2 linked regions of the Homo sapiens genome follow. The protein of the gene in region 2 interacts with the protein of the main gene of each other region in a pairwise test. Each region holds a gene or a part of one and is shown on either strand. Other genes may lie near its edges.

Evidence for each region.
Region 1: the proteins of RNF39 (region 2) and DNAAF6 interact in binary tests that used the Homo sapiens proteins (3 or more experiments, as listed by UniProt).

Annotation. Positions count from the first base shown.
Region 1 is NC_000023.11:107,216,608-107,223,634, reverse strand, and holds part of DNAAF6 (dynein axonemal assembly factor 6), read right to left. Parts: intron 6,965-7,027; coding exon 6,892-6,964; intron 4,772-6,891; coding exon 4,666-4,771; intron 891-4,665; coding exon 794-890; intron 1-793. UniProt on the Homo sapiens protein: Plays a role in cytoplasmic pre-assembly of axonemal dynein.
Region 2 is NC_000006.12:30,072,761-30,079,933, forward strand, and holds the start of RNF39 (RING finger protein 39), read right to left. Parts: upstream 3,010-7,173; 5' UTR 2,826-3,009; coding exon 2,463-2,825; intron 719-2,462; coding exon 696-718; intron 489-695; coding exon 397-488; intron 1-396.

The sequences.
Region 1 (7,027 bases), on a different chromosome or scaffold from region 2:
GGAGGAAAAAAAATAGAAGCAAAGTTCCTGATCTCAAAAAATAAAATTTTAACACAAGAATTACTTGTTAATGTTGCTAAAATGAATCAAATTCCACACTCTGGGTTAGGCCCAGATTTTTCAACAAGGTCATTATCAGGATGAAATAAGCAAAAGTAAGGTGGTATCATTGATATTGTTGGTATTGCCACAACTGTTATACAGAAACAGTGACCTGGTAAAGGATGCTCTCCAACATTCGGTAGCGTCATTCAGATAAGAAAGCAAAGTAACATTTTAGATGTCTTTCTTAGTGTTTTTAATCAGAAGTCAGATCCCAAAATTAAGAAAATCCCTTTTTAAGTCCCACATTGTAAGCTGAGTCATTACGAGAAATACAGAAATAAGAGATAAGACAGATGCGGGGAAGGAGATACTTCATTCTGATTGCCTGTCAATTCATCATAAGTTAATAACCAATCAGTTGGCATGCATGGGACGGAACTAGGATGGAAGAAAATCCAGTCCAATCCAATTGGGAAGTTTTAATAGGGATAAAAATAGAAATTGTGTATTGTGTCATATGATTCCATTATGTTTATTTGTAAATCTCATCCAAATGTGTAAACTTAGTTTATTTTGTACAAGTTAACAATTTTAAACTGTCTATCCCATTGTTACCCTAGTACGTGAAACATAGCAACCACGATTTTTAAAGAGTTTACAACCTTGCCTACAATATTATGTAAATAATAGTCAGTCAATTTAGCTACAATGGTTGTATAGAAAATGAAGAAGGGGAGGAGAGGCTTACCACTAGTTCACTGCAACAACCTGTTGAGGAGTCCTTTTTTGACAACCCTAAAAATATATCTTCAGTTCCCACCTGCTGTCTGAATATAATCTCATACCTGAAAAAAAATCAATGATTATAGGGACTCAGATGAAAGAGCAATTTCCTGTCACAGAAAAGAAAACTAGTAACTTATGAGGATATGCTATTAGGTAAAATAAAAGGACTAAACAAATAAAGTGCTTGCAGGTCTTCAGGCATATAATAGAACATAAAGGAAAAGAAGTCTAGAAATGTGGTCAAAATAAACACTGAAAGGCAGGATTGTTATTATTTTCTAAAATAAAGCTTTAACTGTTTCAGAGCTAGACAAATAAAATAGATTGAGGGAACTTGTAATAAGATTCTAATAAGATTAAAAGCAGAAGAAAAAAAAGGAAAGTCTGTTCCTGAAAAACAATAGCTCAGAAAAATACTGAGTCCATAACCTAGGGATTGATAGAAACCTTCCTCTGCCAAGTTTAAACCACAGAGCAGAGGAGAAAATTCAGGTTTAGTACTGTTTCTGTCATTAACTGTGGACCTTGGTCAAGTCACAAACTCATGGGGTCTCAGTTTCTACATTTGTATGATTTATGGGAGGGAGGGGTGAGTTTGAACTGAATGATCTCCACGGCTAAAATTCTACAATAGAAACACTGGTAATGTAGTCAGCACAGCTACACCATAGTGCTTAGAATCTAGTCTTACAGAATTCTGAGTGTAATGAAAGGTTTTCCTGATATTTCACCCCACACATGACAATTCACAAATCATTCCTCCCTCCAAATTTGGGCCTCCAGGAATACAATGGTTTATAGAAGCACCCACCACAAGGTACCCCATCTCTTCAGATAGAATGAAACAAATATTTACAAATTATTATTATTATTATTATTATTATTATTATTATGCTTAATGCTACCTTAATGAAGAAATTGTAGATCTCTGGATAGTAAGACTAAAGGACTTGATTGAACTTCTGACCATTTGCCAATAGGAATGCCCAAAAATAAAAAAGGGATTTCTCTGAGTTTGAACATGGCTAACAATAAGCAGCTATTTGCTATGGGGCACTTTTCTCTTAATAGGCTATAACATCTACCAATTATTTATGAAGGTGAAGCCAGGTTAAAACAAACAGAGGATTGATCTATATGTTCATTGCTCCTAATGGATTTGCTCAAGCTCCTGCTCTTATCCTGAGCTCCAGACGCAATTTTCCAACTGTCTACTACAAAGGTTTGCCTGGATGTCCCAAAGACAACTCAAAGTGTACATATCAAAAACCAGCTAGTCATGGTGGCTCTCAACTGTAATCTAGTGCTTAGGGAGGCTGAGGCAGGAAGATTGCTTGAGTCCAGGAGTTTGAGACCAGCCTGGGCAGCACGGTTAGACGCAGTCTTCACAAAAATAAAGTGTGCACCTGTAGTCCCAGCTACTTGGGAGAGTAAGGTGGGAGAATTGCTTGAGCCCGGGAGGTTGAGGCTGCAGTGAACAATGGGCGGGGCCGGGGGGGCGGTGGTTGGCGAAGAAAAAAAACAAATTTGGTTGGGCACTGTGGCTCAGGCCTGTAATCCCAGCACTTTGGGAGGCTGAGGCAGGTGGACTGCTTGAGGCCAGGAGTTCAGGACCAGCCTGGCCAACTTGGTGAAACCTCGTCTCTACAAAAAACACAAAAAACATTAGCCAGGCCTGGTGGCATGCACCTGTAGTCTCAGCTACTTGTGAGGCTGAGGCAGGAGAATCGCTTGAACCCGGAAGGCAGAGGTTGCAGTGAGCCGAGATCACACCACTGCACTCCAGCCTGAGCGACAGAGCAAGACTCTGTCTCAGAAAAAAGGAAGAAAGAAAGAAAGAAAGAAAAAGAAAGAAAGAAAGAAAGAAAGAAAGAAAGAAAGAAAGAAAGAAAGAAAGAAAGGGAGAAAGAAAGAAAACAAAAACAAACTCACTGCTTCTTCTTAACCTATAATTCCTATCAAAGTTAATGGCATTATCATTTCCTCAGTCACCCAAGCTAATAACTTCAGCATCATCTTTGACGCTCTCCTCTCATCCATTTTATCTAACCAAATACCAACTCTTCATCCAAAACTCACTCAAATAAAGACCCTCATACTTCTCCCCAAGGCCAGTGCCTTAGCTCAGCTCCTTGTTATTCTTTTACTTGGCCACTTGTGATTCTTCTTTTTTGAACTGCCTGTTCATGTTCTTTACCTATTTTCCTCTGCATCCACTGAGAAATGTTGAAATGTATTTTCATAAGGTAGAAGATGAAGATTTTTAAAATCTTATAAAGCAATTTTCCTCATAATAACCTGAAGTTATTATTCATTTAAAGCTTTCATGGATGTTCTATCTACCTAACATCAAACATCAGGATGAAAAGGGAAAAATTACTCAAATTTGAAGTTTGCTGCATATGGATATTTGACATTTGTTAGACAATATGACAAATAAGTGACTTAATTATTACTTTTCATATGATACGTGGACACTATATAAACATAACTTCAAATTTACTCTCTTCGTTCTCTAAGAAATGTTTTAAAATCTCCTTTGATTTTTTATGAGGTTTATGGTCTTGACATTGTTTATTTGAAAGCTGGATACTTCTTTCTAGTTAATTGTCTGCAGTCTCCCACTGCTTCTGTTTTCAGAACTTATGTAGAAGGCAGAAGCATGGAGTTTTTGTTTATTTGCTTGTTTTATACTGGACAATTTTGGCTGGGCGCAGTGGCTCATGCCTGTAATCTTAGCACTTTGGGAGGCTGAGGCGGGCGGATTGCCTGAGGTCAGGAGTTCCAGACCAGCCTGGCCAACATGGTGAAACCCCGTCTCTACTAAAAATACAAAAATTAGCTGGGCGTGGTGGCAGGTGCCTGTAGTTCCAGCTACATGGGAGGCTGAGGCAGGAGAATTGCTTGAACCCAGGAGGGGCGCAGGTTGCAGTGAGCAGAGATTGTGCCACTGCACTCCAGCCTGGGCGACAGAGCAAGACTCTGTCTAAAAAAAAAAAAAAATACTGGATAGTTTTGTATTCAGTATTAGAAAAGTTGTCAGATCACTTGCCATAGAAGTCTTTAAGAATTTATATAGTACATTATAATTTAGTAAGTGTTGGCTTTATTTTTCCTGCTATTCTAAATAGTCAATCCAAATTTTATTTCAAAATACACATATGTAAAGCTTAGTCTATTTGACCAATAATTTAATCTATGTATATAAATATATTTTAAGGTTCTTAAAAGTATGAGTGCTTTTAAAATCAGAATAAAAGGCTTTTTATAATAATTCTAAATTTCATATTTACAACTTGATTGTATTGAAAAGGCTACAAAGCAAGTCTTGAACCCTGCTTGCAAAATACACTGAACACTAAATATAATCTTAGAATATCTAGTAAACAAGTCTGGGTAATAATTGATAATTGGAGAGAGAACATAGCCTTTTACCGAAATTGTGGAACATTGAGTAATTAAAAGCAAGTGCTTGACAAATAAACATGGCATTGTAATTTAGTTTGTATGAATGCTTGCAATTTAATGGGCTGGCTTTCTCCAACTGCTAGTTCCACATTATACAACAAATTGACATTAAATATAAATTTATAATGGAAATGACTATATTTTTCATTTTTGCTAGATAGTAACTGAAAGGAAGGTGTTATGCTTTATTATTTGTTTCTGCTCTAGAAGGAAAAAAATAATCAATTACACATGCCTTCCGTGTGTCACTGTAGTTTTATCTTTTATGTGGTATGTTACTTTATGAATCTTGTAAAAAGTAAAATGTTATCAGATGACACAGCTAACTTAAACTCCTAAAGACATTCCTGGCTTCATTTGACTTACTCTGGGATTTCTCTAACATCCCACATATCATCATATTCTGCTCCTTCTGGAATCTCTTCTGAATTCCAGATGTCCTCATTATTTTCCTCGCTGGTTTCAGGGATGACTGTGAAGAAAGGGAAGATAAAGCTGAAGCTCATGCTTTTTTCCTTCTCTAAATTGCTCCTGTTCTTCTTCACACTCAGTTTGGGTTCATTGAAATAAAACATTATTTGTAATCGCTAGCTTTTTTTTTTGATCAAAACAAACTAAATTAGTAACTACTGACTAAATGTTTCTATCAATACAGAACCAATACATTGTAGAATTTTAATAACAACTGTAGAGAATTTGGCAAAAACATAAACAAAAAGAAGAAAATAATCTACAATCCAACTGCCTGGAGATAATCAATGTTAGTATTCTGTTGTGTATCATTCCAGTCTCTCTCTCTCTCTCTCTCCATATACATATGCAAAGAAATATTACACATTTTTCCAGAAACATAAATAGGATTATATTTAAAAATATTTTTATATAAAAGAAAAAATTACAACTACAATCAATCTGATGTGGAGAGAAATGTCTTATCTTGCATTGTTTTTACTATATAAAAACGCTTTGATATCTTTTCCATGCAAGCATGACATAATTCTCAATAATATCAATTAAAGAAACTGAAAGCAGTGGATACAATGATCATTTTTTAGTCCAGCATTTTCCTCATGCAGAGCTGAGCATGAGGTTGGGTTTCTGCATGTCATCTTTAAATGTTTAAAAATGGATAGGCTCCAGTAGGCATGCAAAAACCCAGCTCACATTTGTTTTAACTATTGTAGCATCCGGTGGAGACCTGCATTAGGTGCAGAGCACTGCTTTGAGTCATTTTAAGCATTCCCAGAAATGCACCCGATTGTTAGGTTTTCAATTCTGGCAATTCTTTTGAAATGATCAGCTTCTATCTAGCACGGGCTTTGTAAAGCCTAACTACAGATTTATATATAACATTTTACATATGAATCATTGCCTTCAGAATTTAAAGATTATTAGACCTACATTATCAGAAATACAGGCAGCACAGAAATACATGAAATGTGAATTAGACTGCCATGGAGCGAATATCTCTTGGGTAAGGCAAATAGCCTCTTGAGTATGTATAGCAATAATAACTGAAATTTTAAAACCATCCTTAGACCTCATTTTAGCCATTATTTTAAACATTTGTCCAGATTAATCTTTTGCAATTAACTAAATTGATGAATGAAATTCACTTCCTCTCCCTTCCTATCCTCTGGTTAATGGTGATCATGACCAACAGAATTAGAGCCTTTTATATTTTTAAAGATTTGTAAAATGTTCAACTCTGTAAAAATGTATAGCTCAAAATGCTGGGGAAATGTAAAAATATTATTTAGCCTTATTTATTGGACTTTTTTTTATAAGTAAACTCAAAGATGTTAATGTATAAGCCTCTTAATGTAAGATAAAATTGTGTAGTTATTTGTTTTATTGTCTTCTCCAAAAGTCTATTAGCTCAATCAGAACAGGGACTTTTTCTGTTTTGATCTGCATTGTAGTATCAGAGATGGTCATACTGCCTGATACAATAGGTTCTCAATAAATATTTATTAAACAATTCAATGAATGAATTCCATGAAATTGCTAGAATATAGGAAGGTAGAAGGTAAAGAAGCTAAGCATCTTGGTAAATAGACCTTAAAAAATAAAAAATGATCTAACCACACGTGACTTTCTTGGTCTTCTATCTCAGAAAATATGCAAGGAATGTGGATAATTCAAGGCAAATATATTTCCATTATTAGAAAAACTATTTACCTGCAGTGGTAGAGTAAAAACAGCATCTTTATATGTAAATGGCTATTCATCATTTCCATGATTATTTTAGTTCATCTTTTTTCTATTTAAAAATTATTTATTCATTTCTCCATTTTTAATGAACAAATAAAAATTGTATATATTTATGATATACCATATGATGTTCTGAAATATGTATACACAGTGGATGACTAACTCAAGCTGATTAACATATGGATTACCTCACCTACTTATCATTTACTTGTGATGAGAATACTTAAAATCTACTATCTTAGCAATTTCCAAGTATACAATACATTGTTATTTAGTTCATCTTAATAAATACTAGTATTAGTACTTATTACTCTCCCTATAATTTCTCTACCAAGGAAAAGATTATATTGATCTATATTGCTTTGTTAAATAACTTACCTTTGAGCTCTTCTATTTGGGGTGGTCCAATATTCCCAGGACCCATGGCTCCAATAGTAGATAAACCATTTGTCTGAGGGAGGAGAAAAAGTTCAATATTCTGTAATTAATACTTGTATAACCTATATGACTAGTG
Region 2 (7,173 bases):
AAGGTCATTAGGGTGGGCTCTAATCCAGATTGCTGACTTACAAAAAGAGGAAATTTGGACACAGAGACAAATGCATACAAAAGAAAATGTGCAGACCTATCACCCAAAGAACATGTGAGGCTACCAGAGGCTAGGAGACAGGCATGGAACAGATTCTGTCTCATGGCCGTCAGAAGGAACCAACACTGCTGACACCTTGATTTCAGACTTCTACCTCCTGAACTTTGAGATAAATGTCTGTTGTTTCAGCCACCTACTTTGCGGTGCTTCATTAGAGCAGTACTAGGAAACTAATGCAGACATCAAAAAGGACCTGATCACTTTTTAGGGCTAAAAGGAAGAAAATCTAACACAGACTTTCATTCAATTCCCTTCCCTCCCTTCTTCTTTCCTTACCTGTCAGTCTATGAAGCATTTTTTTGACCACTGGATAATCTTCAGGGAGATCATCCTCTGAATTAGATGACTTGGATGTTGGGACTTCAAATCTACACAGATGAGGGGAAGGGTCAGGAAATCAGCCCTCTGATCCTAATGCCCCCACGCATACCCCACTCACATCTCTGGAGGAAGAAGGGATGAGACTATACCCCAGAAAACCTGCCTATTAATGGGAACAAAGGTGTGGGCCCAGTGAGAACGTGATGGCTATGGCAGCTGGTGAGAAAAGGAGGGAACAGAAAAGTGGAACTCACCGTCTCCATGTCTTCCTCATATCCTAGGATGGGCAGAAACAAACATGGATGTGAGCTCTGGGCTTCATTCCCTGGGGCATCCTTCCCTATCTCTCCCCTCCTCAGGTGAGTTCTGTCTGAGTTAGCAGTGTCCCTCCTCACCTTTCAGAGTGATCTCACCTCTTTACACACTGTGCTCCTTTCCCTCTCATTCTCCTCCTTCACCTTTCATGATCCCTCCTTCCTCTCACCCCATCACTTTTCCCTCATCCTCCTAACTCCATCCCCACTGTCCTCCCCCTTTCCACTCCCCAAGGGTTCTCAATTCTCTTTTCCCAGGCTCGTCCGTGACTGTTTCTTGTCCTCAGAGCCCTTGCCTTCCTTGCTGCCTCCTCAGTCCCATTCTCTGTCTCTTTCAGCGGCCCCATCCTTATCTACCTTCCCCAGTGCATCCCAGAAAAACATCTGTCCCTTCCTCCCTCCATCACACAGACCAAACACACACCCAGAGCCCTCGGGCTAAGAGTTGGTATATAAAAGCCTTACAATAAAGCTGCTTCCCCTCTTGCAATAAAAGCCCAGTGGCATTTATTGGGCCCTTTGCTTTGTGTCTCTGGACCCTGGCCAGGGAGGCAGCTAGACTTGAATGTGTCCCAAAAGGCCCAGCAGATCCACAGAGTACTATGGGAGCCAGGAGAGGGCACTGGATGCTCCCCTCCAAACACTGGGATACCGACCCCTCCACTTCACTGTCTAGTGCTGATGGCTGGAGCAGGCCGATATGGTGGAGCGGGGGAGAGAGAAACAATTTGCATAATTGTGCCAATTACTTTCAGACTAATTAGGTCTATGAAGACTTCAAAGGGCAGAAGCAAGACCCAAGACCAGCTTGGCTGCTGGGAAGAAGCCAGTCAGGAGTCCCAGACGCCCAGGGGTCGGTCGGGCAAGGGAATGGGCTGGTTAGTGGCCAAGGAGCCGGGGCCCAGGAGAGGCGCGGGGGGTAGATGGGTGGTAAGACTGGGATGTGGAGAGGAGCCAGAGGCCCCAGCGGCTGTTCTCCCGCACCTCGCCTCCACCCCTGGCCGCTCCTGCCTGGGGCCTTGGGAGGAGCCGAAATAACAATAACAAACAACACAGGGCTTAGCTTGAGCCAGAGTCCGAGACCAACCCCCACGACGCTACGGGGAGGTTTGGATATGCCCCAACCCCTTGCTCCCTTCCTCCATCCTCTTGTCAGTCCCCTCCTCCCCAGCTTTTTCTCCGCCCCCAACCCACCAGCCCAGCCTCCTGCTCCCGCTCCTCTAAGCAGGTTCTGCCCTCGCCCACCATCCTCCCAGGACCCCTCCTCACCCTCAGCTGGGTCGGCTCTCCCTTCCGCCCGCCGCTCCCTCCCCTCCGCCAGCTCTCCTCCTCCCGGGCGCCTGCGGCTGCCCTGCCAAAACTTCTGCAGTTCCCATGCCCTTCGCGGCGACTCCAGGGCTCTCCGCGTTCTATCCGGTACCCCTTCTCTGCCTCCCCAGTCTCTTCTCTCCAGCCCCTCTCACAAGGCTCAGGCATCGGTCCAGCCTCCTCCCCTGTGGACCAAGTGTCAACTCCATCCATCGTCCTTCCGGGCGCCTCTCACCTTGAGGACCCAGGGTCCTCGCCCCCTCATCCTTTGCTTTTCTCTCCCCACCCCATCCTTTGCCTAAACTTCCACAGGGCCTCCGGCTCCAGACGTGCCATTCCCGGCTTCCCCGGGAACCTCCCGCTTCCACCAACAACTCCGCGACGCGCGCCCAGCCTCACCTCTCCGGGCAGGTCCAGGCAGCCCATGGTGGGGATGCGCCCCCCTCGGCGTCTCCCCGCACGGGCCCCAGGCTCAGCCAGCTTCTCTCGCAGCTCGCGGCTGATTCGCACCTCCACCGCCAGCCGCACATTAGACCTCAGGCTGCGGCGGGGACACGGCAGGCCGCAGCAGGGACAGGCGGTGGGGGAAGCCTCGGTGCCGGTCGCCGGCGGAGTCCCCCAGCGGCGGGCCAGACACGCGCGGCAGAAGCTGTGCTCGCACGCCAGAAGCACCGGGTCCTCGAAGGAGCCCCCGCACAGAGGACACGTCGCCAGCTGCTCCAGACGCTCCACCAGCCCCGGGCCCAGCTCGGGCGCATCCATGGAAAGCCAGGATCTGGACGCCGCCCCTTCCGCGACCACCGTGACCGCCTTCGAGCGCGCAGATGGCGGGCCGCCCCTGCTGCTTGCTGTGTAGATGCCCTTCTCTCCGACTCCCGCATTAACTTTTGCCGCTTTCCGCCCCTCTCCTGGGATTGCCTCTCTCTTCAACCAGAGTCTCAGTCTCGTCAAATCTCTCCACCACATCAGGCTTTATAGGGAGGGAGGAGGCTCCCACGGGAGGTAAACACCAGGCCTTGCGTAACGCCTCATCTGGTTCTCCTGCTTCCCGGGTAAGGTTTGGGGGAGCAGGGAGGGGAGAATAGCACACCTGGTTCCCAGAGCCTAGGAGGCGGTCACTAGAGGGCGCTCTGGGGCGGGGTAGCCCTGTGTGGGGAGGGTAGCCCCCTGTGACCCCCCGAAGAGCCCCAATTTTACCTTCCCCTCCGCCTGTGGTACGCGCATGGGCCGGGTGCCCAGGCTCACTCTTGGCATGTGCGCCCACATTGCCAAGGTGCGAGTCATTCCAGGTGGCTGGCACACCTACATCTGGGGGCTGGGGGCCGGAAGCACAGATCCTGGTTTGTGTGGCTTTGGCAAGCCTCTGAGTGTTGATGTGTGGTTTTCATTCCTGGTGCCTCTCGCCTTTCCATCTTCCTTCCTTACCTATTAAGGGCTTAAGGGCATTCTGCAGCTCTGGGGTAAGGGGTGGGGAGCAGGCGCCCACACTTCGGCCTCAGGGAGTCGGGGCAGAGCTCTTTCAGCTCTACCTCTGGCCAGCTCCCAGGGCCTCTCCTTACTTTCTTCGTAAGTCTCTCTTTCTGGTTCTTTCTCTCTGTTTTTCCCCGTGTGTGATTTTATTACCAGTTTTCTCTTTCCTTCCTTCTTTGGAATGTACCCGGTATTATCTATTTCAACTCTGGTAGTTCACAGAGGCCCAGAGAACTGGAATAGCCAAGGTCACATAGCAAGGGAATGACCAGAAGTGGAGCCCTACCCTGGTCTTCTGACTTGTGTTCTTGCTGTGAGTCAACCCTGCCTTTTTCAGTTGCAGATCCCTGGGACCCCCTCCTGCTTCCTGATTTTTTTCTGGTGTTCCTTTGTGCCTTCATTCCTCACCTCCATTCTCTCTTTTTCTCCTTACCTGCTCCTCTCCCCACCTCTCCTCTTCCTCCCTGCTCCCTCCTCTTCCTAGCTTCTCTACCCTTCCAATGCCAGGCCTAGCTAACTGGATACTCATGGGGGTTTGTGCATAAGTAAACATCCAGATGTCTACAACTATGATCACCCACACTGTTATATAACATGTGTCTGCATCCATCAGTGTCCAAATGCCCAAATGTGCACAAACTTGCAGACAGAAGCATTCATGTAATACAAACATCACAGCTAAATATAATGTGTATGAATAGCCTCATATGCATTGAATATCACTGGGATAAATGTCCAGTATTATTTAGGAACAGACGGACATGCTCAAAGAAAACAGGCAAAGAGACAGATACTCTATCATCAGTTTTATTATTAATAAGAATAACAGTATAACAGCAGTAAGTCTTTATGGAGCAGCAGGACTTTATTAGGCACCCCCTCCAGGCACTCTTCTTCTGCCTCCCCCATACTTATCGGGGAGACACTCAAATATGACACCCTGATAAACAAACCTACACAAACAAACACACGTACATTCATCTTGGAACAACCCTCCCGGCTCAGTGCTCATAAAACACACAGATACCCAAGCATAAGACTACAGTTGTGACTGAAATCTATTTTGTAAAAGATGCACTTCTATGCTCTGATAGGTAGCATAGAGAGATAGCAGCATGAGAAGTGATCGGCCTGACATTGCTGGCTTTGGAGACTGAGGCAGGAAGCCACAAGCTAAGGAAGTGGGTAACCTCTGGAAGCTGCAAAAGACGAGGGAATGGATTCTCTAGCAGACCATTCAGAAGGAACCTAGCACTGCTGACACCTTAATTTTTGCCCAGTAAGACCCATTTCAGACTCTGAACTACAGAATAATAAAGTAACAAATGTGTATTGTTTCAAGCTCCTAAGTTTGTGGTAATTTGTTACAGTATCAATAGGAAACTAATACACAAGATTGCCTTTTCTCCTCCAGTCTCTGACTCTCTGAGTCTGTTTGCACTTCTGTGTTGTTGCACCTTCCAGTTTGTCATATTTTCTGGATGTCTCTGCCTCTCTTGACCTTCTTTTCAGTCTCATGTTATCTCTTTTCCTTCATTGTCCTGGCTTATCCCCAACTCCAAGGCCTCTCAGGATCTTTTTGGATCTGGGCTTGAAGTACTGGAGAAATGTCTCTGAGACTCCTCAAGAACCTCAATTGTCACCAATCCAAGTGCCTTGCTATGGCCCTCATGGGCTTGTCAGCGGTTAACAGCTTCAGTTGCACATTAGAATTATCTGGGAAACTTTAAAACTCCTGATGCCCAAGTGACACCTCAGACCAATTAAACGGACACCCTGGGGGTGGGTCCCAGGTGTCAGTACTTTTAAAAGCTTTCCAGATGGTTGCAGTGTTTAGCTAACAGGAGAACCATGGTCTTGAATGACGGCTGTTCATGTGGGCTGGTCACTCCATTTTGCTCCTTGTGCTCTGGCTGCAGTGCCTTCTACTTCTCGTTCCCCGAGCCACTGCTGGTGCGGCTGCACCGCCTTTGCACTCACTGTTCCCTCTGCCTGGGCCCCTGCTCCTCCAGAGCTTCACATGGCTTTCTCCATTTTCTCACTCATGTCTCAACCCAAAGGTAACATTCAGAGAGGACTTCTTTTACCACTTGTATCTCAAGTGGTCTTTCTCAAAGGTATTCACTATCTCTTTACCCATATTTATTATCTTCATGCTATTTATTACTGTCTGCAGTGATCTATTTATGGACTTTTGATGTGTCTCTGTCCAATAGAAGGTGAGTGAACAGGGACCTAACCTTCATGTTTGCTGCTGCTTTCCCTGCACCTAGAATAGCACCTGGCACACAGTCAGCCTTAATAAACTTAGGTCCAGTTGTTGAATTGCTCATTACACTGATTGGACAACCTGAGAGGGTCATTTGATTGACTCTGCTTAGACCTTCTTATCCTTCTCAACCAATAGTCATGCCTCACTGGCAGATGCCAGGCATAGTGCTGGGAAACGCTCAGGTGTTATAAGACATATGGTGCTCAGTCTGGCTAGGAAGTTCATGACTAGTTGTCATTTGCCTTCCATAACCAGATGGTGAGGATTCCTGCTAACAAAGCATCAGCTCAACCTTTACGTCCAGGTTACAATGAGTTCATACCTAATGGTTCCAGGACACCAGTAAGGGAAAAGGCATTTGGAGACAGACTCTGCCTGGAAACATCTCACTTCTCAAGACCTTCTCCCTCCCTTTCCAGAATCCCTAACAACTCTATACTTGATGCTCTAATCACCACTGAGTTCATTCTATTTCCAGAGAGCCAGAAGGGTGGATGTGATTTTACGTGTGTCAGCTTGGCTTGGCTTGATCCAGTTGACCATGACGGGATCCTGTCTCTCTGCTAGGATCCACATCTTCCTTCCTTAATGTAGGTGTCTCCTAAATAACTGTTCCCACCCCTTTCCAACTCCTTCCAGGATTCCTACTTGTGGTGTTGTGGAGTGTGACAGCTTGATACCCATGCATGGCACTAGGGAATGTCAGAGGTGGGACAGGCCTTGACCCATCCCTTCTTTTCCTTCTCTTCATTTTTTTCTTCTATCCTTTCATTTATCCTTCAGTCTCTCTCCTCCATATTAGCAACATCCTCATGCTTTTAAAAGCCCCACTAGTCTTTAGAAGCTTTCCAGAGGGAGAGATAAGTATGATAGAGGAGTTTGGGAGACTGATCACAGGACAGTCATGGTCCCTGCCCTTAGGAAGTGTGATAAGGCAGGTAAAGTGTATCCATCATCAACAAAATTTAGCATTACTGAATTAGGGTGTGTAAGAAGGCAGATAAAGTGTATCCATCATCAACCTAAATCTGTCATTACCAAATTTTAAAGGTGCAGTGACGGGGGAAGAGTGAGGGAGGATTCTGTTGACAGATTGAAGGACAAGTGGGAATCATTTCAGGAAGTCTTCCAGGAGGAGGTGACCTGTAAAAGAAGTGAAGGTTGTGTTGACTGGAAGAGAAGTGAAAAGGCCTGAACAAAGAATGTGAAGCATCTCTGGGGAGAAAACTGGATTGGGAAAAGAAGGGCTAGGAGGTAAGAAATCAAAATGAAGGAGACCATAATTCTTTCTCAATTCCCACTCACTATGCCCTTCCCAAAGATTTTCTTCAATCTTGATTGTTTCTATAATGACTCATTTTTTTAAGG